7 linked regions of the Homo sapiens genome follow. The protein of the gene in region 7 purifies or fractionates together with the protein of the main gene of each other region. This does not show direct contact. Each region holds a gene or a part of one and is shown on either strand. Other genes may lie near its edges. The genes, in order: SLC38A7, LTN1, EXOC7, PEX19, SAAL1, KIF14 and CA14.

What was found.
Region 1: the proteins of CA14 (region 7) and SLC38A7 purify together in Homo sapiens (affinity purification with mass spectrometry; 2 studies listed by BioGRID and IntAct, with this or other methods). This does not show direct contact.
Region 2: the proteins of CA14 (region 7) and LTN1 purify together in Homo sapiens (affinity purification with mass spectrometry; 3 studies listed by BioGRID and IntAct, with this or other methods). This does not show direct contact.
Region 3: the proteins of CA14 (region 7) and EXOC7 purify together in Homo sapiens (affinity purification with mass spectrometry; 3 studies listed by BioGRID and IntAct, with this or other methods). This does not show direct contact.
Region 4: the proteins of CA14 (region 7) and PEX19 purify together in Homo sapiens (affinity purification with mass spectrometry; 3 studies listed by BioGRID and IntAct, with this or other methods). This does not show direct contact.
Region 5: the proteins of CA14 (region 7) and SAAL1 purify together in Homo sapiens (affinity purification with mass spectrometry; 3 studies listed by BioGRID and IntAct, with this or other methods). This does not show direct contact.
Region 6: the proteins of CA14 (region 7) and KIF14 purify together in Homo sapiens (affinity purification with mass spectrometry; 3 studies listed by BioGRID and IntAct, with this or other methods). This does not show direct contact.

What each region holds. Positions count from the first base shown.
Region 1 is NC_000016.10:58,678,070-58,682,646, forward strand, and holds part of SLC38A7 (sodium-coupled neutral amino acid transporter 7), read right to left. Parts: intron 2,173-4,577; 5' UTR 2,058-2,172; coding exon 1,788-2,057; intron 826-1,787; coding exon 627-825; intron 406-626; coding exon 264-405; intron 1-263. UniProt on the Homo sapiens protein: Symporter that selectively cotransports sodium ions and amino acids, such as L-glutamine and L-asparagine from the lysosome into the cytoplasm and may participates in mTORC1 activation. The transport activity requires an acidic lysosomal lumen.
Region 2 is NC_000021.9:28,926,933-28,931,126, forward strand, and holds the end of LTN1 (E3 ubiquitin-protein ligase listerin), read right to left. Parts: intron 3,579-4,194; coding exon 3,516-3,578; 3' UTR 1,212-3,515; downstream 1-1,211.
Region 3 is NC_000017.11:76,089,737-76,094,313, forward strand, and holds part of EXOC7 (exocyst complex component 7), read right to left. Parts: intron 1,500-4,577; coding exon 1,407-1,499; intron 746-1,406; coding exon of another isoform or gene 593-745; intron 436-592; coding exon of another isoform or gene 308-435; exon of another isoform or gene 6-307; coding exon of another isoform or gene 1-5. UniProt on the Homo sapiens protein: Component of the exocyst complex involved in the docking of exocytic vesicles with fusion sites on the plasma membrane.
Region 4 is NC_000001.11:160,278,188-160,282,177, forward strand, and holds part of PEX19 (peroxisomal biogenesis factor 19), read right to left. Parts: coding exon 3,852-3,990; intron 2,060-3,851; coding exon 1,883-2,059; intron 1,659-1,882; coding exon 1,614-1,658; intron 1,448-1,613; coding exon 1,364-1,447; 3' UTR 1-1,363. UniProt on the Homo sapiens protein: Necessary for early peroxisomal biogenesis. Acts both as a cytosolic chaperone and as an import receptor for peroxisomal membrane proteins (PMPs).
Region 5 is NC_000011.10:18,095,674-18,100,250, forward strand, and holds part of SAAL1 (protein SAAL1), read right to left. Parts: intron 1,182-4,577; coding exon 1,098-1,181; intron 1-1,097. UniProt on the Homo sapiens protein: Plays a role in promoting the proliferation of synovial fibroblasts in response to pro-inflammatory stimuli.
Region 6 is NC_000001.11:200,550,482-200,555,310, forward strand, and holds the end of KIF14 (kinesin-like protein KIF14), read right to left. Parts: intron 4,126-4,829; coding exon 3,987-4,125; intron 3,287-3,986; coding exon 2,907-3,286; 3' UTR 1,019-2,906; downstream 1-1,018. UniProt on the Homo sapiens protein: Microtubule motor protein that binds to microtubules with high affinity through each tubulin heterodimer and has an ATPase activity. Plays a role in many processes like cell division, cytokinesis and also in cell proliferation and apoptosis.
Region 7 is NC_000001.11:150,259,996-150,263,474, reverse strand, and holds part of CA14 (carbonic anhydrase 14 precursor), read right to left. Parts: intron 3,325-3,479; coding exon 3,304-3,324; coding exon of another isoform or gene 3,227-3,303; intron 2,017-3,226; coding exon 1,837-2,016; intron 1,782-1,836; exon of another isoform or gene 1,678-1,781; intron 1,318-1,677; coding exon 1,175-1,317; intron 951-1,174; coding exon 855-950; intron 672-854; coding exon 605-671; intron 434-604; coding exon 276-433; intron 177-275; coding exon 56-176; intron 1-55. UniProt on the Homo sapiens protein: Reversible hydration of carbon dioxide.

The sequences.
Region 1 (4,577 bases), on a different chromosome or scaffold from region 7:
GACAAGGGCACTTAGAACTGAACTACTCATGGATGCAAAAGGACATTTAGAACTGAATCTCTCATGGATGCATCCTTTTTCTATGATGGAGACAGAAAAGGATGGTCTTATCTGAAACCCTGCAAGCCCCGGTCTGCCCTGCCTTGCCTACTCTTGCTCCCCAAGGTGAGGTGGCATGGAGGAGCAGGGTTCCCCAGGAGCCCTTGGGTCTACAGCTGCCCAGGATCATAGCTTCTGTCTGACCCAGGCTGGGGCCTCCAAACCTGGCATATTTCTGGAAACCAATCTCCCTGGGGATGGAGAGGGGCAGGATGAAGAGGAAGGCAGTGAGGCTGATGGTGAACTTGCGGTCTGTGTACCAAGGGCCGCTGGCCCCCTCCGGCTCTTTCGCCATCACAGCTATAACTGCACAGGGAGGAAGGAGGGAATGTCAAGCCAGGCCACCATGGGGTGTGGCCCTCCTGCTCTGCTGGGCCCCAGGACCTCCCTCTGCCTGGAGGGAGGATTCCCAGATGAATGCTGGGCCCAGGTAAGTCCTGGAGAGGTGTTCAGTGCCTTTTCCCTCCACCCCAGGATCCCTGGGGCTGATAAGAAGAGATGGGGTAGGGACTGAGGGAGAAGCTCACTCTTGTCCTGCTGGTCGCCAATGATGATTAGGAAGGCAATGCAGGTGCCAAAGGTGTAGACAGCGATGGCCACCTCACATAGCACACCTGTCAGCTTGCCACACACAGCCCATACCACCTCCTGGTAGGTCCTCTCATTGCTGGCCTGGGAGCAGTAGGCCAGGATGACAAGGCCACTGATGATGAAAACCAGCATACCCTGCAGGCAGAGGCAGAACAAGAGCTTGTGGCAAAGGCCTGGCAGCAGAGGGCACCCTGGGCTCGCCTAGCATTTACTGGGCCAGTGCCCAAAGCAAGCTTGGCAAATCTCACAAAGGCAATTTTAAGAGACTGCTAGAGGATGCCGAGTTGAGATTTTCTTTAAAAACAAAAAGTTTTTTGAAAAATTGCCAACATACAAAAGTAAAGAGAATAGGCTGGATGCGATGGCTCATGCCTGTAATCCCAGCACTTTGGGAGGCTGAGGCAGGAGGATCACTTGAAGTCAGGAGTTTGAGACCAGCCTGGCCAACATGGTAAAACCCCGTCTCTACTAAAAATACAAAAATTAGCTGGGCATGGTGGTGGGTGCCTGTAATGCCAGCGACTTGGGAGGCTGAGGCAGGAGAATCACTTGAAACTGGGAGGCAGAGGCTGCAGTAAGCCGAGATCGGGCCACTGCACTCCAGCCTGGGTGACAAAGCAAGACTCCATCTCAAAGAAAAAAGTAAAGAGAATAGTAAAAAGAACTGGCATGTATCCATCACTCAGCTTCAAAAATGATCAATGCATGGCCAACTTGTTTCATCATTCCCCTTCCCTCCCACTCTGCATTTATTGTGAAGCCAATATAAGCTATCATATCATTTCATCAATAAATATTTCAGTATGTAGTTCTAAAAGATAAGGGCCCTCTTTTTAAACATACCACAAAATCAATGTTACACCTAAAAAATTAGAGATGTAATTGATGTTCAAATTTCTCTGATTGTTGGAAGGCTTCTGAAGCCTCATTTGGGTCACAGGAAAGAATACTAGAATAGATTAGTCATGTCTGCCATGTGTGAGGGAGGGGAGAGCAGTGCGTGTATCACTTACTGGCCATCCCTGACCCGAAGCCTCCCTTTTGAGGCAAAGCGCCCAACTGAACTGCACCTCTGCCCTCCCGGCCAGTGCACTCACCATCTGCAGTGCGATGCCTGCTGCCACGCCCCCCGCAGTGCTGAAGGCTGCTGGGAAGTTGAGTAACCCTGCACCCAGGCACGCGTTGACGACGATGAAGATGGCCCCAAGTGTGGAAGTGGTGCCTCTGTCCAGACCCCCAGGAGAGGCTTCCCACTCACTCTTGGGGGCTGTGTCCACACAGGGACTCTGCAGCAGCCGAGCCCGCTCCCCGGCATCCGTGCTCAAGTCCCACTCGCTGTAGTCATTGTTGATGCTGACCTGGGCCATGGCCCCGAGAGCCTTCTTCCTGCAAGGTCTGTGGGTTCTGCCTTACAACCACATGCCTCAGGGAGCTGAGCAACACCCACCTGTTTGGGGCTGTTAGCTTAGGACTCTTCTCAACCTAGATGGGACAAAGGCAGGCACTACTGTTATCCTAAGATGGGGGAACTAGGGGACAAAAAGGTGTAATAACTTTCCCAAGATCACATGGGTAGGGTCCAAACCCAGGTATGCCTCTGTGCAGACAGTGCACTGGGTGCCAGAGTATGGGGAGACAGACACAGAAACAGATCAGGTGCAAATCATGCTTGCTTCAGGCATACAGACTCAATGGACCAGTTAGATGTCAACATAAAATGGGTACTAACACATCAGCACTCGATAGAGGCCCCGCATCGGGCAGGTGTGTCATGGATATACTTTATCTCATTCAATCCTTAGGATGGTCTTGTGGTCAAAAGGTTCGGAGAGATCCCATCACTGACCCAGGGTCATATATTAGCAAGTTGCATAGCAGGATTTGGATCCAGATCTGTCTGGCTTCCCAGCCTGTTTCCACCCCACAGGGTCCCAAAAGGACCCCTTACCAAGAACTGAGATTCAACATATTACAGTCCAGCACGCCTCCCGGTGGCCTGGAGTCTGAATTCTGTGGCTTTCGAGGCCCTTCGAAATTCAGGCCAATTCTCGACTCTTCTCTCATGTGACAAGCCCCCATGCCTGTCATGTTTGCGTCTTCAGGAAAACAGTGATTCATCCCATGCTTCTAATGCTCCCAACTCCTTTGCCGCCACCCTTTTAGGTCCTATTTCTTCCCCATTTCCTGGGTCACTCACTGAGCTCTTCTTGGAGCCATGTAGGGGCCCAGAACCACTCTAGCTGGTTTCTTCTCAGTACTCTCTCATGTGCTAGCATCTCACTGGCCACTAGGCTTGCTTTCCTGGGCTAGATTACAATGATCAGTGCCAAACATGCAGTGCTGTTTGTCACTATAAACCACTATTGCTGCAGCTATGGAATGCTTTCTCATTCAATCCTCAATGCAGCCCTAAAAGGTAGACATGACAGTCACCATTTTACCAAAGAGGAAGCTGAATCCCAGAGGGGATAACCACTCTCCCCTCAGTCATATGGCGGTCAGTGGTGGAGCTGGGATTCAAACCCAGGCCTGTCTGACCATAGGGCATCCATCTGTTTGTATCTGCCCCACTCCTGGGTCCAAGATGGTACCTTGGGTATGGCAGAACTCAGATAACAGGCTTATCACCTGACTGATTCTCTTTGCTCTCTGGATAAACACAATTGAGATGCAGTTTTTTTTCTTCCAAGAATCTCGAGAGGCTCTGAGGAGCCCAGCCCTGAAAAAGGATCTTCAGTGTTCTCAAGGTTCAGCTCATAGCCTGAGACCCGCAGAGAAATGATGGTCCTAAAGCATCAAGTCCACCCCCAGATCAAGAGCAGCCCTGGGCAGGGCTGTGATCTGGGTCTCCGAGTAGGTTCTGCCGTCAGAATGCTGACTCCTCCGCTGCCTATCTGTGTGACCCTGGGCAAGTCACTTCGCCCCTTTAGGCCTTTACATCATATGTTCCTGTGGGTCGTGTGTTAATATCAGTAAGGGTTTAAGACTCAATAAATGGTCACTGCTGCTGTTATTTCTGCAGATGCCCCTTCCCATGTTGCCCACCACCACCATGCCTGAGACTCTCCAGCCCTAAGCAAGCAGGGAGCAGAACACTGATCAAAACCAGAGCCTGGGCCGGGTGTGGTGGCTCACATCTGTAATTCCAGCACTTTGAGAGGTCGAGGTGGGCAGATCACCTGGGGTCAGGAGTTTGAGACCAGCCTGGCCAACATGGTGAAACCCCATCTCTACTAAAAATACAAAAATTAGCCAGGTGTGGTGGTGCACCCCTGTAATCCCAGCTGTGCAGGAGGCTGAGGCAGGAGAATCGCCCGAAATTAGGAGACAGAGTTTGCAGTGAGCCCAGATCACGCCACTGCACTCCAGTCTGGGCGACAGAGTGAGACTCTATCTCAAAACAAACAAACAAACAAAACTCAAACCACAGCCTGGTGCTATTGGCCAGGTAACAATGGGCACAGAGGCCCTGGGATAGCTAATGGGAGAAAGAGCAGGAAGAAGGCCAGATTTCAAGGGCAGGAACTAAGGGGGCAGGGAGGAGCCAGGGCAGTCTTCCCCAGAGGCTGCTATTAGCTGGTTACCACCCAGGCTGGCGAAATCTGCCAAAGACTCCTTCTCCTAGAGTCTCCTCATTCCTGAGTCCCGATTTCACGGTACTCATACAAAACTCCATTTTAATCTCTACTCCCTCCCTGGTTTAGTCTTTATTTATTTAGAGACAGGGTATCACTCTGTTGCCCAGGCTGGAGTGCAGTGGCGCAATCAGAGCTCACTGCAGCCTCAATCTACCAGGCTCAAGCAATCCTCCCACCTCAACTTCCCGAGTACCTGGGACTACAGGTGTGTGCCACCACAGCCAGCTAACTTTTAAAATTTTTTTTTTT
Region 2 (4,194 bases), on a different chromosome or scaffold from region 7:
ATTTTGAAATTTAAAACTTTTAACAAAATATAACGGAATTTTTTAAACCTCAGTTAAATAAAATTTTAAAACCTAACATAAAAAAGGCTCAATCATAAAAGAAAAAAAAAAAGGTCTGATTAAATTTAACCGAAAAATTCTGTGAGATTAAAGATAGTCACAGAAAATGTTAAAGACAAGCCACATATTAGAAGTCCTATGAGCTAAAGCATTATGATCAGTAAGAATACAAGTAACCTAGCAGAAAAATAGGTATAGATTATGGACAAAAATCTGTCAAATAATGACCAATATATGAAATGAAGCTAGGCTTCTTAAGGAAATATAAGTTAAAACAAAGAGCTACTATCTCATAGCTTTCAGACTGCAGAACTTAAAAATTCTGATAAGACTACGTGTTGGTGACAAGATAGGAAAACCAGAATTCTCTTAAACTGCAGCTGGGAGAGCAAACTTGCATATCACTTTGGAGGGCAATTTGAAGACATCTAAAGTGACAGAGTATACACATCCTACTACCTGGAAATCCATTTTTATTTATTTTATATATATATATATATATATATAAAATTTTTTTTTTTTTTTTTTTTTTTTTTTCAGACTGAGTCTTGATTGCTCTGTTGCCCAAGCTGCAGTGCAGTGCCACGATCTGGGCTCACTGCAACCTCCCTAAGTAGCTGGGATTACAGGTGCACACCACCATGCCTGGCTAATTTTTTTTTTACTTCTACTAGAGACGGGGTTTCACCATGTTGGCCAGGCTGGTCTCAAACTCCTGACCTCAGGTGATCCTCCCACCTCGGCCTCCTAAAGTGCTGGGATTACAGGCGTGAGCCACCGTGCCGGGCTGAAATTCCATTTTTAGACATATGTCTAGAATATCTAGCACATCTGCATGAGGTGACATGATCAAGAATGTACACTTGCAGCACTGTTCAAAATGGCAAAAAAATAACAATTTAAACAATCTTTAGTAAGGGAACTGGTAAGTAAACTGATATGACACTAAACAGCATTATGTTGAGTGGAAAATCAGGTTACAAAAGATTACATACATAAAACATCATTAACATAATTTTTGTTAACTATTATACATTGTTTCTGGATAAAAACACATGGTAAAGTATAAAATCTTAAACAGGAAGGAGTCACACCAACTTCAGAATTAGTACGTTAGCTCTAGGGAAAGAAGGAGGAGAATGGCGCCAGGGAGAAGTACAAAAGAGTAACATTTTATTTATTTAAAAATCAGAAGCAAATATGGCAAAATAGTATGTGAAGGGTACAAGGGCATTTATATTATTATTTTTCTGCATATTTGAAATATTTTTAATTAAAAAGAATTTTAATGGGCACATATGGTATAACAATCAAATAATAACATTAATTACTTGCACCACAAAAATGTATCAAATAACAACATATTATTTAAGCCACAGACACTTATGTACATACATTGGAGCATGTGATAAAAGAGTCAAAAATAAATTTTAAAATTTGCAATTTACTTTGGGGTTTTAAATTAATAATTTTGCTAATCTCATGCAATTTTAAAATGTCCTTAAGCTAAAATTTTAAGGGCTGTAATCCTTTTAGTTAGAGTTGTCAACGCTGTACAGATGTGGTATTCTGAATTTCAGTCTTATCTTGTAAAGCTTTTTCTTTAGTATATAAACAGTTAACAAGCTTTACAATTATACTTACAAGTCTTAAAGAAATGTATTAAGAGTCCTAAGTATGAAGAACAGTTATTTAATTATAACTACTTAATTATAGTGTTTCACCAAGAATCTGATGCCCTAATACTAATGTGGAAAAACAATGCTCCATTATTCCATTTTCTTTTCTGCTTGGGGTTTGGGCCAGAAGCCAAGATGTACCAATACTGGAAAGGTTTTAAACAGTCTTATTATAAAACCATTTTTAAAGGAAAAGTAATAACTTTCACGGGGAGTAACACAATCCTTTGGGATTACTATGTCAGAAAGAGACATAGAAAGATAGAGAATATTTTAAGAAAAGGGTTAACGAGGTAGTAAAATTTTGCTATCTGTACTTCACTTACTGACCCTCAGAGGCTCAAGGCTAGAAGACAATAAATATTTTACAGTAAAATGTAGGAGGCAAACAAAACTGGGCAGGACACTGCATCTATAAATATAATTCGAGAGATCTATAACTCACACATAGTACTTCACTCTCAACTATAATCCTCTGACCACATTCATACTATTTCAATAGTCATTTTACCCAGTAGATGGAAAGCAGTAATTTTATTTATCATGAATTGCTTTTTGCCAATTAAACATGTGCAACAGAGATGATTAGCTGGTCTCTCAAGTAACCTAGATATTAGATATGCTATTTCCATGTAATGGAAGACTGCAATAAAATTATTCCAAGTTCTAAAGTTCCACACTTTTATATTTTGGGCACAATTTTTAAGAGTGGCAAAAGGCAGGTTTTCACTTACTCCACTTCAGCCTATTATACTGAATTTTACCTAGTGCTAAAATCCTTAACTTTCATTTCTGAAGGCTGAAAAACATTTGCTCCCCCAAGTCTCTTATTTAGTATAACTTTGGCTGGTAAGAATAGCTCAGTTTGCTTCCAAAATTGAAAGTCTCCTACAACATTTTTAAATGTTTTTTTTTTCCACTGATCTTTAAGTTTCAGTAATACTCATTTATTTCTTCCCTCTCAATAGAAGGATAACTACCACTCCGCTTCATGAATGAAATAATCAAATTACTATTTCTCTCAAATTCTCACCCTCTAGAGACTCGCTCAGAGTGATAAATTCACTGACAAGTTTACAATTCAAATTTCACTAATATATAGAAATAATTCTCCCACAAGCAAAAAGGTCAGCATCAAGAATTTAATTTTCTGAGTTTCATAACCCTTGATAAATGGAGGCACCTTAAAGTTCAGTTTAAACTCTTTTATATAGGATTTCAGAGCATGCCTCCAGATATCTTAAGACAAGCCGTATTAATAGCTTAGTGTCATTTTTATCATTAAAATAATCTACAAATATCAGAATACTAATTTATTGTCATAACTAATAAATAAGGCTTAAAATATCTATAGATGTAAATCAGCTCTCTCAGTTCGTTTTGCTTCACTTGGACTATTCTAAAACACAGATCAACAAACGGAATGGGTTTATCAATAATATAGTTGTGCAATCTTTTCACAAATTCCAATTCTGTAATTTAGGGGTTTTTCATATTTATTTTTAAATATACAAAGAAATTAAACCATTAATAGAAATATTTTCTCTCAAATATGTAATATTCTTTTGTAAAAGAAAGTTTCCAAACATTTACAAAGCAATCTAAAGTTAAGTAAACCTGATTTTAGGATTATTACATTAACCAAAATAATTTTCCAGAGAAGGTCCTATTTAAAAGTAATGCTCACTGGCTTCCCCACATCCACACTTTCAGACGGATCCAAATCCAATGCCTTTGTTTGATGTACTTCAGGGATCCCTTCCAGTGAAAAAAATCTCAGAAAAACGTCTCACGACACAGTGGACAAGTGGATTTGTTGCTAGATGTAAACCATTTGTACTGAAAAAGAAAAGGTTTTAAATACTAAAAGAACTTTTAAAGTTCTCCTCTAACATACATCATAAAGTACACATACATCTATAGTAACCTTCAAATGATAAAGTGAAAAGGGAAGAACAATAAAATTTTTGCTCTTTCTGTTATCTCCAAAATTAACACAAATTGAGTATTACTTCCGATGGCTACACTAAGTTCTTCCTACTTAGGCTCATGCACACAATCACTAAGATATAAGAAATCTCCTGTGAAACAAATGAACAAATGGCAACTTCTTTTTCAGTATGTTTAAAAAGAGCACAGGGCTCTGATGCCAGATGGCTTCCAGTACCAACTCCTGTACTCTCCTTCATGGTCTAGATCTCAGAAGACCTTCTACTTCTTGAGTGGTAAAAGGTCACTGGAAACACCCATTTATTAGAGGGCCTTGATTCTACCAGTCTCAGTAAACTGCTAATTATCTTTGGCAGATTTTAAAAAATCACTTTTTAATATATCTCCCATTAGCTACAATTAAGTTTAACACACATTTTCTCTTCCGAAGTTAGACATTGTGTAGGTGTGTGTGTGTGTGTGTGTGTGTGTGTGTGTGTTTATGTGTATAAAATACATAAAATAT
Region 3 (4,577 bases), on a different chromosome or scaffold from region 7:
GTCATCCATGTGGGCAAATGCGGGGCCTGTGAAGGAAGTGACCAGCCCAGTCAGGGCTTCTGGAACATCTAAGAGGGTGGTTGGCTGCAGCTTCTGAGGCTGGCTGGCATGGGGTCAAAATCTAAGAGGCTGGTAAGTCCCAGAGAGGAGGGGTTGCCAGCTGCCCCAGGAGGAGGCCAGACCCTATTACTGGAGGCCACGGCGGGGGCGCCTGCAGGCAAAACCGGCGGCAGAACTGCCTGGTCCTATGTGCCAAGGGATGGGCTCCGAGGGGATCAGAGCTCTGAATTGTTGCAGGAGGCGGACGTCAGGGCTCCCTGCCCTCAAGGGAGCCACCTTCCCTCTCTGCCTGCTTTCCGAGGAGCAGCGGCTTCTCCCCTTGGCCCAGGCCTGACAGACAGGCACGCACTCCCATCTGGAGAGAGGCAAGGAGACCTAGGCCCAAAAGAGAGAGAGTGGAGAGAGAGGCGCATAGGCCTGGCCCATCCTCAGAGCAGAGTGGGCCCAGCTGGGCCAGGCAGGAGCAGGCCATCCGGGGACCGCTGCGAAGGCAGTGTCAGCGGCTGCCCTCGGGCTGGGCTGCGGTACTCACCGGCCAGCGGCCCGTGCTTGTCGTTCAAGGCCTCGGACAGGTGCTTAACTCGGAAATCATGCTCGTGACCTGGCGAGATGTCGGCCGCACAAACACAAGCAGCGTTTATCCAGGGGCCAGGCAGGCCGCCCCTTGGGGTACAGGGAAGAAGCCCTTCATCTCCAGGAGGGGGACGTCAGATGGGGATGGGGAAGGGGGCATCGGAGAGGGCCCTGAGCCCCTCCTCTACCTCAAGCCACCTTGGGAACAGCCGTTTCAAGCCTGACTTCAGTGAGCACCCAGGACCGTCCTTAGCTGCTCATTTCCCCGAGCCTGGAGGCCCAGGGAAAGCGGAGAAGGACCAAGGAGGGGCTGAAGAGCTGATGCTTGGCCCCAGGGGGGTTCCCCACCTCGCTGTATTTGGGGAAAGCCCCAGTTTGCCTGTCCTCTGCTGCACACACTCCCCTTTCTAAAGATGGGAAGGCCGGGAGGCCTCGGCCAGCTGGGGCCTGCCACTGCTGGTCTGAGCGTGAAAGGGCTGCCCCAAGACAAATAACTTTTTCTGAGTTCACACAGGAGACAAGGACAGAGACAGGGAAGGGAGGAGGGAAGCCTCAGGGAGGGCAGAGCTGCCATCAGCCAGAGAGGACCAGGCCGAGGGCTGCGAAACTGTCCCTGTGCCCGCTGAAGCCCGAGTGGCATCGGGGACCTGCCGTTCCCACCCTGCTCCCCTCAGGGTTTCTCCCGAGGCCCTCCTGGGGGAGGCTCTGCCCTGCCAAGTGCGTGGACACACAGTGGAGGAGGAAGGGACAGGAGGGGAACACAGGGTGATTACCTTCCAGAGGAATGAGGTTAGAGCCCCCCTTTTTCCCATCTAGACCATGCTGGGAATACTGTTTCAGAAGGTTCTGAGCCTTACGGATCGTCCCTGTCACCAGAGCCACACAGAGAGGAGATAAGAAGACCTAGGAAATGAGTGAGAGAAAACAGCAGCGGCCCTCCACCTGCCCCCCAGGCCCCGCACCCAGCTCCCCAACAGTGAGCAGGCCTTTCCCTGAGACCACCAGAGACGCTGGGGACAAGGATGAAGGAAAGGAGTCATTTCCTTCTCCAAATGGAGCCTTGATTCTACTACCGACCCTCCTTGTTCTGGATTTCAGCTCATTTCTGAAAGGACAGAGGGTAATGAAGATGGACCAAGATCCACCAGGAGAAGTCAAAAATATGGAGTGGCATCATAATCAGAACAGGCGAGGGCTCAGGTCGGAGGAGCCCGTGACAAAGCTCGCATACCCAGAGGGCACAACCAGGGTGGGAGAGCCTGGGGGGCACCCTGAAGCCAGCAGGCCCCCAGCCCAGCCCCAAACTCCAGGCAGAGTTCTCCGAGCATGCTCAGTGTTGGGACGTACGCCAAACAGCAGCCAGCAGGAAGCCACCCTGACTGAACTTCCGGGGGAGCGCTGTGCCCAAGGCGGACGGCTCAGAGACCCAGAGGCAGCCTAGCCCCACACCAGAGTTCCCCAAACCACCAAAGCGACAAGAAAAAATCCAAAAGTCAAGAAGGGGTTAACAGAAGCCACCACACAGAGCGCCTGGAGGGTGTGCACGGAAGGAGAGGGCACATGCTCTTGGCATGGGGGAGAAAAACAATAGTTAGTATCACAAGTGAAAACAATGAGAACAAAATGGCAGCACCCACAGCCGCCTGGGTCAGCCTCCTTTGTGGGAATGAGACATCTCGGGCCAGAAGACGTCGGGAAATCAACTCGCATCTCAAGCAGACAAGTGCAGCTGCCTTGTTAACAAAATGTATAGGGGCAGAAAGGCACCCGGGATGCCTCCCACCCCCACAGTCTATCTGAGCACAGTGAGGCTGCTGTGTCCTGGCAGCTCCCCAGAAAGCTGAGGGAGAAAGGGGCAGTGTCTGGAGGCTCACTGCTTACACCTGCACCGCACCGCACCGCACAACACCACAATTAGCTTGTTTTTTTTTTTTTTTTTTTTTTTGAGACAGTCTCACTCTGTCGCCCAGGCTGGAGTACGGTGGCACGACCTCGGCTCACTGCAACCTCTGCCTCCTGGGTTCAAGTGATTCTCCTGCCTCAGCCTCCCAGGTAGCTGGGATTATAGGCGTGCGTCACCACACCCAACTAATTTTTTTTCTATTTTTAGTAGAGACAGGGTTTCACCATGTTGGCCAGGCTGGTCTCGAACTCCTGACCTCAGGTGATCCGCCCGCCTCGGCCTCCCGAAGTGCTAGGATTACAGGCGTGAGCCACCATACTTGGCCCATAATTAGCTCCTAATAACCAAGGCCTGGCTCACGTCTCCCTTGCTCATGCTCTCCCCTTCAGCGAGTGCGGCTTACTAATGAGTGAATCTGATTCCTGCCCCACAACCCACCAGGAGCAGACACAGACGCAGGTGCACGCCGGCAGGATGTGGGTCGCCGATGTGGATCTAGCAGCCGCCAAACCCGTCAGGCTCCCAATTGCCTCCAGGGATGCTGAGGTCGGTGCTTCACCACCTGGGAGGCCTCCCTGTCCCTCTCCTCAGAAGTGGGAACCGACATCCCCAGAGCCTGACTCCCTAGAGCCTGACATCGGTCCTGAGCCCACCAGTTCCTGACAACTCTGAAACCCCACAGCTGGAGTTTTCCTCTAGTGTCTCTGGCCCAAGGATGGATGTGGTCCACTGTGAGCCACCTGAGATCAGATCCCTCCTGCCTGAAAGGCCAGGTAGCTGCATGGCCAGCGGGCACTCTTAAGGCAGTGCAAATAGGGCTCTGGGGCTTCTGGGGGACCTGTCAGGGAGCCAGGCAGAAGAGGAAGCAAGCACAGACTGGCTGGGGCCCAAGCATCCTAGCAGCCTCATAGAGACAGCCACTCCCCACCACACAGAAGGCACAGAGCTGCTCCATCCACTGTGCAGGCAGCTGCGCCCACAGGCTGGGCTGGCAGTCCCCATTTGCAGCAGGTTTTGGCTGGTGGGCAGGATTTCCACACTGGAGGGAGAAGGCCCCAGGCACCAGCTCCCTAATGCTCTACTCCCTGAGGGCAGCCCCTGCTCTGCCTGTTTCTCCAAACCCTAAACAAAGGCCTGCAGGGGAGCGGGTGCTCTTGTGGAACAGACACCTCACTCTCTGAGGGGCATGAGCAGGCAGGGACTGGAGAAACCAAGGGTGTAAGTAAGCTCTACCCAAAGCTTGTTGTCATAAGCAGGTGCCACAGGCCACAACTAGGGCATGTGCCCACAGCAGCAGCTGGACAGGGGGCCAGCCTGGGTGGGAGCAGCCCCGGCTTCTCCAGCTTTCTTTTTCAGTGCAATCTCAGCAGCCCCACCCCAGAACATCCCAGCACATCATCGAGCTGCGGGCAGCATCTCTCAGTGGCCAGACATAGCCGGGCTTGCCAAGCTGTGGCTGGCAGAGACACTGTTTACCTGGAGCACAGACTATAAGGGATATGATGCCGGGGAGAAAGAACAGACAGATGACGAGATGTTCACCCAGGACAGCAACACCCACCGGCCCCGGCCTCTCATCATGGTGCCCCTTTCCACAAGTCACTCGCTCGCACTGGAGCCCAAAGCCAGTTTAAGTTCTTCCGAGAGGATGCTCTGGGGTTTCTTTCCTTTCTGGATCAACTGGGAAAGTGAAATTCTCCCCATCCAGCTCTCAGCTACACGTCACTTCAGATCACCCTGCCTTTCTGGAAGGTGAAGGTTGGAGCACCTATCCCCTTGCTATCCCAGCATCCTGGCTGCAGTAGTGTGCCTGGCCTTCTGACAGGGCGACGTGTGTGTGAGGGAGGAGGCCTAGGCAGGGGCTCTGCCTCAGGCGGGATTCGCTGAGCACCTGTGTTACTCCCCTACTCCAAAGAAGCTGTGTAACCCCAGGCTCTGCTAGCTGGAAGGAAGAGTCTTGCTCTTGGGGGGCTTCACTGGGTGGGTAGACACTTGCTTTCTGTCCTGTGTACCTACAGTCGGGGTTACCACGACGACAAGC
Region 4 (3,990 bases), about 10 Mb from region 7:
TCAGCTTAAAGAAAAATAATTTAGAAAACATAACAATATATTACTAACATTAATAACAATAATGTAAAAGGTTAAAATATAATACCACTTGAAGGGCTTTCTACATTGAAATACTCAAGGGAACATGAGGAAAGATGGCCATCCAGTCTCCTTTGCCAACTGAGGTGCAGACTGAGTTGTGGAAGGTGGGTGTTGATGGAACCCAGCATTACAATATTGTGTAGAACTAGTCTCCTAATATACCTCACTCTGCAACTTACGGAAGCTGAGGAAGATCAGAAAAAGACCACACTCCTCACTCAGAATATTTATTATATTCTGCCCCATGGGGCCTTGCAGGAAAAGGGACCCAAGCTATACCCCTACTCCTTTTCCAAGCTACTTTCCTGAACCAAGGGACAGGATTCTAAGAGAATCATGTATCTCAAATAAGCCAGAATGTATCTGGGGAAGAATAGCCATTAATTTCCTAGACCTGACACTGGGTTTATTTGTGTCTGCCAGGAAGACGGGGAGTCAGTGAGAATCGTAAATGGACTAGATGAGGGGAAATAGGATGGGCCCTTCTTTATCACAGCTTGAGCTCAAAAAGGTTGGGATAAACAGGTGTTTAAAAAAGAGAGGAGGTAAAAGGGAGGATGGGCAGGGGATAGAGGAAGGTCAGGGGCTGGGTTCACCCATATCACACAGCATTGTAGGAAGAAGCAGGGTAACCATTTGAGTTCTCAGCCTGGAACAGGGAGGTGAGGGCTCAGCACCTAGAGAGAGGAGAATCCTAAGGCCTCTCTTTCAACTCTATTGTGATTAGATGCAAAAGCCCTTTCCCTTTAGAGAATTCAGAATGGTCTGTCTGAAGGCAAGAGAGCATAGTGACAGACCTGTAGCCCCAGCCCAGGCTGTTTCTCCCCATTCTCAAAGGCTCTGCCAGGAGAACTATAGAAATACAGAGTCCCAGGTCTCTGCCCCTCCTCCCCAGATCCAAGAGAGGGAGTAGAGACAAGGCACAAAGACCCTGGACGTAAAGGTGAACATCAGTGTGGCCACATATAACATTATTTTGAGAAAGGAAAGAAAGTGCATGCCCCAAAAGGGATGCCTTCCTTCACCTTGCAGGTAGCTGGAACTTTGATAGTGGCAGAAACCACAATGGAGTAGGGTTCACAGAAATGGCCTGTGAAACAGACCCTATTCCTAGAGAGACAGAGGAAAAACCTCAGCTGGTATGGCACAATCTTGAATGGGATGACAGAGGGCAGCGGGCAGACTTCTCCCGCAGGTGACACTCCTGCCTCAGGTCCCAATGGTTCTGCTGACTCCAGATGTTCCCCATAGCTGGGACTCAGAGAGGAAAACGTGTTGTGTTTCACATGATCAGACACTGTTCACCACTGGCACCTGGTGGGCCCGAAAGATTGAGGGCATCCAGGTCAAAGTTGAGGCCAGGAGGCTGGGGAAGAGATGAAGGGACTCAGATAGTTGCTCATTTTTTAGGACAGACGTGAAGATCCATCCCCAGTAGCCACAATTTTCACCTTAGGTGGAATCCTGAGAGGTTAAAGAATTCTGGAAATTGGGGACTCAAATTAAAATCTGGAAAAATAAGACATACTCACCATCTCTCCAGCCAGCTCTTTTGGAGGATGGCCTAAATCTTGTAGCTAGAAAATAAGGAAAATGGAACATGAAATAGAGAAAAGCCCAGAAAACAACAGAGGATCCAGAAGAGGAATCTAATGAATGATCTCTCTATTTCTTCTGAGAGAGATCACAAGAGAGGATCCCTCCTCCACCTAGGTCTAGCAGTATTGCATCCTTCCCAGATACTTCCTTCACTGAACACCTAAGTGGACAGCACCAGTGGGCAGAAGGCAAGAGGCCTTACCTGCTGCATAAGATCCAGCACCATCTCAAAACGAGCCTTTTGAGTGGTTTCACTGTCTGTGGGGGTCTCTGCCTCAAACTGCTCACATATTTTGCACATGACGCTGTGCTGCTCCTGATATTTTTCAAACTGCTCTGGAGGTAGAGATTCCCGATGACTCTGCAACCATTCTGGATACTAAGAAAAGAGAGAATGGGTGGAAAAGAATTAAGTGAACAATGGATATGGATGGGTAATCAGAACAATGTGATTAAAATGTGAAAGGGAAAGGGACGTAGAAAAACGAAAAGCTAAATAAGTAAGTTCATCATGAAAAGCGGCACTGACTCCAACCAGATCACCTGGCCATGTTAGCATTTATGGTCACCAGAGATTGGTAAGCTTCTGTAAAGGGCCAGACAGTGAATATTTTAGGCTTCAAGGGCCACATATGGTCTCTATTGTGTTTTTTTTTTCTTTTTTTTCGAGACAGAGTTTTACTCTGTCACCCAGGCTGGAGTGTGATGGTGTGATCACCACTCACTGCAGCCTCGATCTCCCCAGGCTCAAGCAATCCTCCCACCTGAGCCTCCCCAAGTAGCTGGGTCTACAAGTGTGCACCACTGTGACTGGCTAATTTTTTTGTATTTTGTAGAGACAGGGTTTCATCATGTTGCTCAAGCTGGTCTTAAACTCCTGGGCTCAAGCAATCTGTCCACCGTGGCCTCCCAAAGCGCTGGGACTATAGGAGTGAGCCACTACGCTCGGCTATTGCACATTTTCTTTGTAGTTTTTTTCAAATGACCTTAAAAATGTAAAAACCATTATTTGCTAGAGAGTTGGATTTGTCCCACCCAGGTCTTGGCCTGCTGACTCGTGGTCTGTACTATTCATTACACACTTACCCACATTTCCCCATGTCACTGAAAAGCTTCTATTCCTGTATTTTATCTCTCCAGTAAAACTATACACTCTTTAGCCAGGTGTGGTGGCTCACACTTGTAATCCCAGCATTTTGGGAGGCTGAGGTGGGAGGATCACTTGAGCTCAGGAGTTTGAGACCAGCCTGAGCAATATAGTGAGAGCTCAACTCTACAAAAAATTTTGAAAACATTGGCCAAGCATGGTGGCACACACCTGTAGTCCCAGCCACTCAGGAGGCTGAGATGGGAGAAACACTTGAGCCTGGGATGGGGAGGCTGTGGTGAGCCAAGATCGTGCCACTGTGCTCCAACTGGAGCTAGACCCTGTCTCAAAACAAAATGATACAACCACACATATAAGCTCTTTTATGGCAGGGACCATCATTTAAACTACGCTTACACTGTTCACATCACAAAGCCAGTAAGTAAATCCTCAGTTAATTCTTTTTCTTTTTCAGATGGAGTCTTGCTCTGTCACCCAGGCCGGAGTACAGTGGCACAATCTCAGCTCACTGCAACCTCTGCCTCCCAGGTTCAAGTGATTCTCCTGCTGCCTCCTGAGTAGTTGCGATCACAGGCGTGAGCCACTACGCCAGGATAATTTTTGTATTTTTACTACAGACGGGGTTTCACCATGTTGGCCAGGCTGGTCTCGAACTCCTGACCTCAGGTGATCCACCCGCCTCGGCCTCCCAAGGTGCTGGGATTACAGGCATGAGCCACCATGCCCAGCCAAATTCTTGCTGGAGAAATGAAGTCAGAAATGCAAGATTGATCAGACAACAATCCCAGAGTCTTGAACCAGTTTATAGAAAACTAGAACTGAAGGATTTCCTCTTAGACCCCAAACGTTATACCTCTTATACCCCAACATACCGTGTGACAGCTTTATTCTCTCAGAGACACAACTCTCCCCAACCCCCAACTCTCCCTGCCTCAAATAAATAAAGAAGGAAAAAAAGCACACTCGAGTTACTCTTTCTGCAGGCTCTGAGTAGACAAAATAGCCCACATCAGTTGATGTGATGGAAAATGAAGAGAAAAAGCAGAAATGGAAGTTCACAAACCTTTTCTGTGATCTCCTTCAGTGATGGGTACAGCACATCCTTGGAGAGTAGGTTCTGCATAATACTCTGCATGATGGGGAGGATGTTCCCTTCCCCATCCCCTTCGTCCATGCCTAGCCCCTCCATGGCCTTGGTCAGC
Region 5 (4,577 bases), on a different chromosome or scaffold from region 7:
ATTATTGAACAGATATTTACTAATCCATGATATGCATAGCACATGGCAATTTAATTGGCAATAAAGCACAGTACACTGCACAGTATATAAAGGCCTCTCCTTTAGTCTTTATCTATTGTTCTTGGCAGTTTACTAACAGCAATGACTACTGAAAGCTTACTTACTTACTTGGGAAGGTGTGGAAGGAAAAGTACCACTGTGAATTAACAGATGCAAATACTGAGAGGGGACAGAAGGCACACAAAGGGAGGCACGGAGACAGCATGAGACAGGGAGTAGAAAGGTCTGGCTAAATCAGAAGGGTTACCTGGCTATCCAGATTTTATGCTGGAAAGATGAGTTAGGTTCAGAGAGTAGAGGTCTTAAGCAGCAGGCTGAGTTTAGAATGGTTTTCAAGCAATGGTGGATTTTGTCAGTAAAAAAGAGAAATCAACTGAAAAATGGGAGGCCCAGGCTCTGTTCCTTGTTCTGATACATACTAGCAGCATAACAGTGGTTATGCCTAACTCGTCTCCACAGCTGGTAAATGAAAGTGCTAATTTCCCTGGTCCGGCCTGAATCTAAAATTCTATGATTTTCATAATTTTAAATTATTAAATTATTAATAATTTAATATTTTAAATTATTACAGGCATTTAGCTCACGCTTATAATCCCAGCACTTTGGGAGGCCAAGGTGGGAGGATCACTTGAGGCCAGGAGTTCAAGACCAGCCTGGGCAACATAAGGAGACCTTTGTCTCCACAAAATAAAAATAAAAATTAGCTGGGTGTGGTGGCTTACACCTATACTCCCAGTTACTTGGGAGGCTGAGGTGGGAGGGTCCCTTGAGCCCAGGAGGTCAAGACTGCAGTGAGCCGTGATCACGCCACTGCACTCCAAGCCCTGGAGACATAGTGAGACCCTGTCTCAAAAATAAAATAAAATAAATTTAAATAGCAAATTACCTAGGACCTGGCAATGTTCAATTAACATCTACAGGCTGATTTGTTGATTTATGGTCAGTAAGAAAATCAAAGTGAGAAAAATAAAAGACTATCCAGCACTATCTGTTCTTATTGCTTCAAAGAAGAAGGCTTTAGAAATGTACATACTTACTCTTAATCGAGGACACTTGGACTTGGCCAGTACTCCCATGAATATATCAGGAGCATTAAATTCTTGGAGAAATAAAGCCACGTCCTGAAAAGAAAAATGATTATTAACTTGGATGTTGAATATTCCTCCCTAAACCCTAAAGCTCAGGCAACCATAAAATTCTATATTAAAATTAGAATTTTACGCCAGGCGCAGTGGCTGACACCTGTAATCCTAGCACATTGGGAGGCCAAGGCTGGCAGATTGCCTGAGCTCAGGAGTTCAAGACCAGCTGGGCAACACGGTGAAACCCTGTCTCTACTAAAAATACAAAAAAATTAGCCGGGCATGGCGGCATGCACCTGTAGTCCCAGCTACTCAGGAGGCTGAGGCAGGCGAATCGCTAGAACCCGGGAGGCAGAGGTTGCAGTGAGCTGAGATCACGCCACTGCACTCCAGCCTGGGTGACAGAGCGAGACTCTGTCTCCAAAAAAAATAAAAAAATAAAATAAAATTAGAATTTTAGACACAAGAAAAAAAAAACACAGGCTTAGGAACTGTGTCAACAGACAAAAGTGATGTTAGAGAGTCTTTATGGTAACTAGTCCCAGACAATGGAACAATTTCATAAACAAATCTAAACTACCTACAATACTCCAGAGGATTATCCCACTCTTTTCTGCCCGAATCTATTTACCTTAATAATTTTTCTGCCCACTAGGAATTCTCATTAAACACATTCAAACACATTTGGTGATTACCTATCAGGTATTAAACTAGAAGCGGGGGACAAGGGAAAAAAGCAACACGCTGGGCGCAGTGGTTCACACCTGTAATCCTAACACTTTGGGAGGCTGGTTAGAAGGCCGAGGTGGGTGGATTACTTGAGCCCAGCTTGGGCAAACATAGTGAAAACCCATATCCACAAAAAATACGAAAATTAGCCAGGTGTGGTGGCACATGCCTGCAGTCCCAGCTACTTGGGAGGTTGAGGTGGGAGGATCACTTGAGCCTGGGGAGCTCAAGGTTGCAGTGAGCCATGACTTTGCCACTGTACTCCAGCCTGGGCAACACAGCGAGAAAAAAAGGAAAAAAAAAAAAAAGGTAAAACTTGGCTGGGCGAGGTGGCTCACGCCTGTAATCCTAACACTTTGGGAGGCCAGGACAGGCGGATCACTTGAGCCCAGGAGTTCGAGACCAGCCTAGGCAAACATAGTGAAACGCCATCTCTACAAACAATACAAAAATTAGCTGGGCATGGTGGTGTACCATCTGTAGTCCCACCTACTCAGGAGGCTGAGGTGGAAGGATTGCTTGAACCCGTGAGGCAGAGGGTGCAGTGAGCTGAGATCTCGCCACTGCACTCTAGCCTGGGCGACAGAGTGAGACTTTGTCTCAAACAAAAACAAAATTCCTTCTTGTCCTCCAAGAGCTTAAAACACGGTAGGGGAAAGAAGTCAAGAACTGCTATTGGGTCCTGTCCAAAACCAGAATTTGTGTTTTCAAAATCATCAATAGAATAAAAATTCTGATCACAATGTAACTGTGGCAGCCTCATAACTTCTTCCTACAGAGTCTGCCACAGTGCCTAAAGGGGCGTAACACACAGGTGACATGTGAGTGGACATGTGGCCCCAAATGAGCCAAATCTCACCTAGGAATGTAAGACACAAAAGCTAAGTCAGTTTGCTTGGGGACCTGCAATGTAAAATATATAAATAAAATTAAGTCTCTGGCTGTCCACTGCTTCAGATTTTCACTAAATGTGAGGTGTGTATTTGAGAAGCCTTAACTTAAAATATAAGCTGCATGGCTTATGTGAAAATTAAGGGCCCTGGAACATCTCAAAGAGACAGGCAATTATTCTCCACAGCAAGTGAAACCAGTAACCTGCCAGACAACTGACTGAGAGAGACACACTCTACTTACTAAAGGACCATGGTCAGAGAAAATAGTATTTTCAAAGATACACTCTAAACTGAAAGTCATAATGGCAGATTCTCTTCACTGTAAGTGATCAAGCTGTCCTGTGGGCAATTCTTTGCCACATGCAGAAATTTTTAAATTTAATGGTAATTCCTGGAGTAGCACAAGGGTGGCCTAACAATATCAACACCAACAGTAATAAAATTAACATTCATTGAACAAGTATTAAATGCCAGGCACAGTGAAGTGGCTTGCATGCTATCTCATTTAATTCTCAAAACAACTCTATCAACTAGTTATCATTGTTAGCCCCATTACACTCATAAGCAAACTGAAGTTTAAAAAGTGTAGCAACCTGCCCAAGATTATACAGTCTCAGCAGAGCAAAGCTAGGATTTGAACCCATGAGTCTGATTTGAGCCTATGGTCTTGTTTTTTAAAAGAGATGGGGGTCTTGCTATCCTGTCCATACTGGAGCAGTGGCTATTCACAGATTCACAGGCATTATCATAGCTCACTGCAGCCTCCAACTACTGGGCTCAAGTGATCCTCCTGCCTCAGCCTCCCAAATAGCTGGGAATACAGGCAAGTACCCAGCGAGACTATGTTCTTAACCAGCACAACATGCTACCTCTCAGGTATTCATCTATTCATTCATTACTCCCCAAATATTTTCTGAAAAACCTAATAGGCACTGTTTTAGGTTCTGGGGATACATCAGTGAACAAGCTAAATAAGGGCTCAGTCCCATGGAATTTTCATTCTAAAGAAATGAACAAACAATAAATATAAAACAACTAAACTACACAATTTCTAAATGCTACAAAGAAAATAAGATATGTGCTAGAAACCAAGATAAAGCGGGCTACTTTAGACATGACATTGAAAAGAAGGCATTTCAGAAGGGGTGACATTATGCTTTGATGAGAAGGAATTTAAATCCATCAGAGGACACATGTAACAGAGTGAAGCAATTCTGTGGGAACACCAAAACAAGACAGGTTAATTCTGACTGGAGTGTCTGGGGTGGCATCACAGAGGAGGTGACATTGAAGCCGGGCCATAAACAATGAGAAGGATTTTGCCAGCTGGAAGCCATTCTAAGCAGAGCGGCATGAATAGTGCCCATGGACACGTGAAAGTGCAGGAAGTATCTGGAGGTCTCTGGTCCTCGCACACTGAATTCATGGTTACAGAACGATAGGCGACAAGACTGAGATATAAACTCACCAGACTTTGCGCCAGGGACCTCAATTGTCAGTGGAGAGCTCAGTTCTGAGTGGTGCCTCAAGGGCACCTCTTGTAAGGGAGCAAAAGGAGGCCAAAGAACATGACTTTGCCCTGCACCAATAACCTCCTTCAAACAGTAGCGCTGTTTTCTCAATTTTAAAACTGAGACTTTCACCCTAAGAGTTCATTTAAAACACAGGTTTTATTTCTTTTTAAAAAAATTTGTTTAACCATAATTTATCAATAATTGTAGAATAGAAAGTAGATCTGAACAATACTCTCAACCAACCTGATCTGACATTGAGAATAAGATATTCCACCCAGCAACAGCAGAACACACATGCT
Region 6 (4,829 bases), about 50 Mb from region 7:
ATAAACTAATATTGGCTAAAGGAAGAAAGATGGAAAAGCTCAGTCTTGATTATATCATGCAATGACTGTAACTTGCAAAATCCAGAGCACAAACTTACCTGATGAATCATGCACAGGAAGCTGGGCACATAAGCTTTTTTTTAACTGAACCAAACTACTGATACCTTTTCCCCTCACCTGTGATTAATTCTTACTTTCCATATTTAGGGAAAACCTTGAAATGCTTATTGGCACATAGTTAGGCTCTGTAAACTCAAGTATGCTAGTTAGCTAACTAGACAAAACAGCCTTTTGCTAAAACTTTCAGATGGACTGACTCCATGGAGGACACATAGCACATTATACCTTAAGAGCAGTAAGATAATGTTTAGTTATCTTTATTGTCCATTTATTATCATGGAACAAAATGACGGCAGATATATTTTCAGGTATGCCATAAAGGACTGCAATACAATTTGGCACATTGGCAGAATGTTATAAATGGCATATGCCTGCACCAAGTGTGATCTTATATACATAACAAGGGTTTTGTAGCTGGTAATGAAAAGGACAGAAAATAAATTCACTAACAGTCTACTACTTGCCAGCAGTTATTCCCACATTTTTCTCACTAAGTGCTCATAGATAGATAGTCCATGAGGTGGGTATTACTTTTCTTTCTGCAGATGAAGGAATGGGAGTGAAGACAGTAACATGTCTAAGGTCATGTAGTTACTAAGCAGTCCAGCTGGGATTCACACTCCAAACGTGTGAAAAATATGTCAAACTCCAAAGCTCATGCTCTTTACACATACCACATGGTGATAAATCTATTCCAGGCATAATCAACTAAAGAGAGGCAGAACAATGTTAAAAAAAAATAGTTGTTATGGCAATATTAATATTTGTTTAGTGTTTCCTAATTATTAACTTGATTTGCAACACTAGCCTAGCTATTATCAAGGCAGAGCTATTCTGAATGAAGAGTAAAATAAACAAAGAAAATCAGTAAAATAAAAAAGCATAGACCACGAAGCAATTCTAATGCTGAAAAGATTTATTAAAGGCATTCTCTTTATAACATTTCTTGTCAGTGCACATAATTCCAATAGCAAATATTTTTTCACCATTCATTCAAATACAGTATCACAATGTGTTTAGTATAAATATGTATACAAAATTTTATAAAGACACTAAAAAGTTTCTGACCAATTAAGTCATGAGTTTACAAAGCACAAACTGAAGATTAAATACTGAATATTAAGATGAAAACTACTATACAGGTACTTTAGGAAGTTCTTCAAAGAAGTGCACCTCCCGGGAAATCCTCATATGTACATCTACACTCCAGCAAACTGCACAGGCAAAGTGCTACTTGCCAGATTATTGACTAATAAAAACACATATAGAGCTTCAGAAAGAATACAAGGTCAAATGCCAAAAATAAAAAAAGAAATGAAAGCAAATGTGCTACATTGTACCATTTTAAAGAGCTTGAAAACACCACACAAGGTTCACTAATACTGTTCTGACTGCAATGACTGTATTTACTTACAATCTCTTCCTAACAAGGAAACTATCAGATTTATTCATGGTACGAATGGCCAATTTCAACTAGTTATGCCAAATGTACAAGTAGTATCTGTAAATTCGAAAAGGGCAAATGAAAGGATCAGGTTATTTAAATGAATTCTTCTTTTTTTTTCTTCTTTTTTTTTAAATGAATTATTCTTTAGGAACTGCTCAATATCACCCAAGCATAGTTACAAAGTATCTCTTCAAATTATACATACTCTTGAGGTCAAAAACGTCAAACTATTTCCGTAATGTAAGATCCCACAAGTAGAATATTATCTTTATTACTTGATCATAAATAAAGGTTTTTTTTTAAAGCTGTGGAAAATAAGGGTCTTTAATCTTCATCAAATCATATACAAATTATTTCATTATACCTTTAACAAAACAAGCATTATCAAGAGAAGGTCCAGCCTCTGATCTCCTAATCTCATCCAACAGTTTAGTATAATTCTGGCAACATTTTATTAGTTTTAAATAATATTCATACAGCCCCCATTATGAAACACAGATAACAGGGTAAACTACTGTGCCAGCAAGCCATATTATTAATATATAATTATACTATATTTAGGTAGCTACTTATAATTTGGAAAGAAACAGGAAGCTACACCCTTGAACATACTATTCAAAATGGCAACCAGTTAACCCTTTGAGAAAAGAATTTTTGATTAACAATGCAAGTTAAGTTGTCTTAGTTAAACTTGTACAGGCCATTTCACCATAAACATCCCAGCTGTCTGAGGAGAGAGAAGGCATAGGCACAAAGGTAACTGATTGTTCAGGTTTCCACTCATGAGAAAATAACCCTTTATAAACGACTAATGAACCAACTACAGACAGTATACCAATGTTAAACACTTTAAAGATAAAAATATATTTTATTTATTTATTTATTTATTTATTTATTTATTTATTTATTTATTTTGACTAAGTCTCGTTCTGTTGCTCAGACTGGAGTAAAGTGGCATGATCTTGGCTCACTGCAACCTCTGCCTCTCAGGTTCAAGCGATCCTCCTGCCTCAGCCCCCCTAGTAGCTGGGATTACAGGCACGCGCCACCATGCCCAGCAAATTTTTGTATTTTTAGTAGAGACGGGGTTTCGCCATGTTGGCCAGGCCGGTCTCAAACTCCTGACCTTGTGATCTGCCCGCCTCCCAAAGTGCTGGGATTACAGGCGTGAGCCACTGTGTCTGGCCTTTGATAAATAGATATTTTAAAGATAAAAAGACATGGACTTTTTTGAAATATCTGTGCTGATTTCTCTTAAACTCTCCTGCATAAAGAAAATTACCGAGCAAGTGTTCTTTTTCTTTCATGGGTGGTCATAAAAGTGCCTACACATCAGTATTCACACCCACTGAATCCTACTGGGTGTGCATTCCTCTGAGCTCACTGCTGGGGATGAGCCATGGAGCTCATAGACACGCTTTGGTACACCTTTATTCTTACTGCCGTCAATCCCGCTTGATTTAGATTGTTGGTGTTCTTCTTTGGTATTTTGATTATAAGTTTCCCAGGGTTTCAACAAATCAGGGCTTTCTTCAGATTCAAAACAAAAGAGGAGAGACTTAGCTAGAGATTCTAGTTCCTGGTGGACAATGTGAGTTACTCTACTCTCATAGCTGCCAACAGAAGTAGAAGGCACACTGAAGTCACTGTAAAAATCACTGGCCAAGTTGCGAATACTTTCAACACAAGTCTGGAGAAGATTTATATCACTATGGCATCCTATATGCAAGAGAGGAGGGAAAAGTTAATTAGCCTTTTCAGTTTTCATCAGGTATTTATGACTTTTATAGACTCTAGATATCTTTTAAGTCAAAGTGACCCTATCAAAACAATTCCAAACTACTTAAGATTAGTCAACTAAAGTGTTTATTTGCTAGATGAGCACTTGGTTTTTCAGGATCTAATTATTTAGGTAGAAGTACTGATACATACATTAAGTGGGAATTTAATTATAAATACAAGTTCCTATATGGGTAACTAATATCAGTGAAGTAGCATTGGGTAGGCTTCAGTTAATGACTAAAATAATGAAAAGGTTAGAAATAAAAAGGAAAGATGTCAGCCGGGGACTGTGGCTCATGCCTGTAATCCCAGCACTTTGGGAGGCCAAGGTGGGTGAATTGTTTGAGGTCAGGAGTTCGAGACCAGCCTGGCCAACATGGTGAAACCCCATCTCTACTAAAAATACAAAAATTATCCAGGCATGGTGGCATATGCCTGTAATCCCAGCTACTTGGGAGGCTGAGGCAGGAGAATCGCTTGAACCCAGGAGTCGGAGGTTGCAGTGAGCTGAAATCGAGCCACTGCACTCCAGCCTGAGTGACAGAGCGAGACTCCATCTCAAAAAAAAAAAGGAAAGATGTCTAAGGTTCCTTAAAATATAAAATTCTGATTATAAACTCCATTTGGAGAATCATACCTTTCAGTGCAGAAATAATAATTTCAATAGCTTTCTCTAAGCAATGTTTTAACTTTAAGAATTCTGGAGCACGATTAACCATCCTCTTGAAATCTTGGTATTCAAAGTTTTCTTCTTGTACTTGCCTTCTGAAACTTTTCTGTATAAATAAAGTTAATATTTAAAATAATACATTAACAGGCTCAATGGCAGTAAGGCTCAGTCAATATGATTTTAATTGCCAGAATCTTCTCTTTAAGAAAGAGAGTTTAATTTCCTCACCAGTGCTTAACTCTATTTCTATAAGCAAGACCAAAATACAATAGTAATTACTGTTTTCAAAAGAAATCAGAATTTTCAATTAATTTTCAAAGTCTGTCATCCTATTACATGAGAATGGAATAAAGTAACAGTGCCATTTATTATTCAATACTTTAAAAGATACATTTATTTCATTTTTAAGAGCTCAACTTTATAATAGTTCTCATTTATTTAAATAAAAATTTTCAAGCCATAGCAATTACTCTCCTTTTTAACACATTGATCATATACTTAATTTTTCTCTTTACCTGTGACATGGGAATAATCTATCTAATTCAACTGTATTTTAAAATCTTTGAGCACAATGATTATTAAACACAATTTTTTAGCCTATAATGACCCATCCAAGCAAAAGCTGACAGTTATTAAACCAGTAGCAATAAGAAACAGACATATTAATAAATTTCTATACAATCCTTTATCCACTACTAGAACTAGTAAGTTATGACACACATAAAAAAGACAAAGAGCTATCTTACATGCTACAATTAGACATATACAAAAGAGTTGTCTCTGGCTAAGGATAAACACTGAAATAAAAAT
Region 7 (3,479 bases):
TCCTGCCATTGTGTCCCCCTCAGTTTCCCATCTCTTCTGAGCCGTGCAGAATCACCTTGGATGAAAGAAGCAAAGACCATGCGCTGATTGAGAGGCTGAAGGGCTCGGTAGTTCTGTACCAGAAGCTTAGAGGGCTCCTCTTCTGTGGAGAACAATGTCCCCTGAAGCTTTTCCAGCTGAGGAGCAGAAGCGTGGGAGAGGTGTTACTTTGGGGAGTGGGAAGGGGTCTGAAGTTACAACTGTGTCTCACCTCACCTCGTTTCTCCACCACTTACCTGTTCCATTGAAATCTGGGACCTTCTATAAAAAACTGTCCAGAGCACACTCTGGTAGCAAGGGGGAGTTGTGAGCGAGCCATTGTAGCGGAAGTACTGCCCCAGCTGTTTGGGGAGCAGCTCTCTTAGGTTGAAGGGAGGCACTGAGGTCTTCTGATCTGGGGAGAACAGACTGGGACTCATCTTCCTTTCAGTGTGCCCTAGCTTACCTAGATAGGGCTCCCAGAAGCAAAATTCCTTGGCTCTATGTAATTGCTTCATCCCAAGGCTTTTAAGGATAGTTTTTGAAAGTCTAATCTTACTTCCTGCTATAGATTTTTAAGGCTCACCTTTATGCCTGACTTCATGCAAGTGACTCAGAATGTGTTCATAAGCTATATTCTTAGTCTCACCCACCTGGAAGAGAAGGAAAGGGAGAGAGTTTGGAATGAGTCCATGTTTGGAATAAGAAATTTATGTACAGAATAAATGGTCAGGGTGGGCTGCTGCCTGCCATAGGAAGGAGGCCAGCAACAGAAATAGGTTTGAGGGTTGCAGAGGAAGTGGAGAGAAACCTGGAAGGGACTGGGGGCTACTGACCTCAATTAGGATGCCCAGGACAGCCAGGCCCTGAGGCCTCTCAGCAGCCTCACTCAAGCTGTCATAGGAATCAGAGTCATAATGTACAATGTGGAGCTAAAGGAAGGAAGAGGGAATTGAATCATGGAATGTCTGCACCCCCTTCAAGGCCTTGATCCTAGCTGCCACCATCCCCCCGCTGTCCCCGGCAGGCACTAAGTCTGTCCCTCAGAGATTGGCCTTATCCCCCCAGCATGACTTTTCCTAAGGTCCAGATCCTTTCCCCAGGACCACCCATCCCTGTTACTTTGTCTGAGTCCCAGCTCTTTGTTCCCTGGTACCTCTGCAAATGTGGCTTCACTGTTGATCTGGTGTTCTGACCCCCCTGGGGATCCTTTCTGACCCCAGTGCAGGTGGAGCTGGGCAGCTACATATTTTCGGGGAAGTCCACCCAGATACAGGGTAGAGGGCAGAGAGAGTTGCACTGTGAGGAAAAGAGCAAACTCGGATTGGTGGAGGCATGTGGATACATTCCCACTCCTGGGTTGCCACCACTTCTTGGGAGACTTGGCCCTCTTCCAGTTTTCTCCCCCAGTAGCACCCAGTTCCTCCCATAGGCCAGTGCTTTTCTAGCATATCTTCCTTTTTCTTGGTGAAGACCAAGTCAGTGCAATGATACCTACCTACTGAGCTTGGTTATAAACATTTCGATTCCCGCTTTGGCTACAGGATCCTGATCCCCATTCTCATATCTCCAAATTCATGGACAAAGGTTTTTGAGAATTCGTAGGTTAGGAAAATGCTGCTTTCCTCTGACTCCTGAGGTTATTTGTTTGTTTATTTATGTCAGATGGGTAATGTGCCAACATCTTGACAAGATTTGAGGGCGGCACATCTTACGCATGCTCAGGAACACCCCATCATCATGCCCATGAACTACAAAAGGATCTGACTCCTAAGATCTGAGCTGGAGCCTACAACTCCTTGGAGCCTGTGCTTTTACCTGTGTGGCCATTGTTGTGCAGGTCCAAAGGCTCGGTGCCAGGCTGGTCATATCCGTGGGGCTGCAGAGCAGGCAAATCAGGGTCAAATGTCACACTGTCTGTCTGAATATCGATGGGCGACTGGGCATTGTTTCCACACTCAGGGTAAGAGGCTGGCCAATGGTCCTGACCATGTGGGCCTGGTGGGGGTTACCAAAGACATTGGTCCTGTCCTCCAGCTCTAGCTACCCTTCAACAGCACCCCCTCCCTTTGACCCTTCCCCTAACCAAGCCATACATCTGTGTGGAGGTAGAAATGGACTTCCCTCCACCCAGGTTAAGACCCCAGTTGTATAGGGATGGGTGAGGTAGGAGTCCTGTTGAGTCTCATGCTGCAGTTCCCCTTCCCTACCCAGAGGCAGTGATGATTCCCCAACTATCCTGATGAATGGGGAGTGGTAGCTCTTTTACTTACCTGTATTTTGAGGACAAGAAAGCTGAATGAGGGCAGAGGGGATGCATAGAAAACCTGAATACCCTGAGAGATGGGATTAGAGAGTAGGAGTAGAAAAATGGGAGAAATAAAATGATCCTAGATAGGCCAGGCACAGTGGCTCATGCCTGTAATCCCAGCACTTTGGGAGGCCGAGGCAGGTGGATCGCTTGAGGTCAGGAGTTCGAGACCAGCCTGGCCAACATGGTGAAACCCCATCTCTACTAAAAATGCAAAAATTAGCCAGACGTGGTGGTGGGCACCTGTAATCCCAGCTACTCGAGAAGCTGAGGCAGGAGAATCACTTAAACCCAGGAGGTGGAGTTTGCAGTGAGCCCAGATTGCGCCACTGCACTCCAGCCTGGGTGACAGAGCAAGACTCTGTGTCAAAAAAAAAAAAAAAAAAAAAAATAACCTAGAGAGATACGGTCTCCTGGAGGCCCCTATCAAGTGGCCTTGGGATTCAGATATCCTGACTTCTCATCATTCACTTCTTGCTCTCACACTGACCGTTTATCATGAACTTGAGTTTGGTTAAGTCATTAATCAGTAGTTCATAGGAACTGAGTTCCACCTCCCCCAGGGTCAGAAACTATCCTGCCAGCCTCTTCCTCACCCCTGACCTCCAGCTCTGTCCCAATTTCAGATGCAGGTTAGGGGTAGGATGGATTAGGATAGACGGAGCCAGAAGGAGACCTGGCAGCTAAGCTCAGAGTTCCCACCCAGCTTCCTTTCCACCCCAGCTCCCTCACTCCTACACGATTTACTGAGGACTTAACTAGCTTTTCTGCCAAATCAGGAGGTGTAGGATTTGATGATTAGAGCAGGATCTAGGAGCCATATATGTGAAACTCAAGGCAGGAGGAGATCCAGAAGGGAGGAGCTAGGGTGAGAAGGTAAAGGAAGTCTCCTCCCACCCGCACAGTGTGTCTTCCTGCCAGGTGAGGAGGTCCCAGTGTGAAAGGGTTGTCGGGAGGCCTTGAGATCTGCTCACCCTCATACGTCCAGTGTTGACCTGCAAGGCAGAATAGTTTGGGTTACAGCCAGCGCAGCCTGGGGCAGAACCCTGGCCTCCACACTCCCCTCCCTCTGGCATTCTGTACTGCTCCACCTCCCTCTCTGCAGTCTCTCCTCCCTCTGCTCCAGCACTTTGCAAAGGAAGCCCTGAAA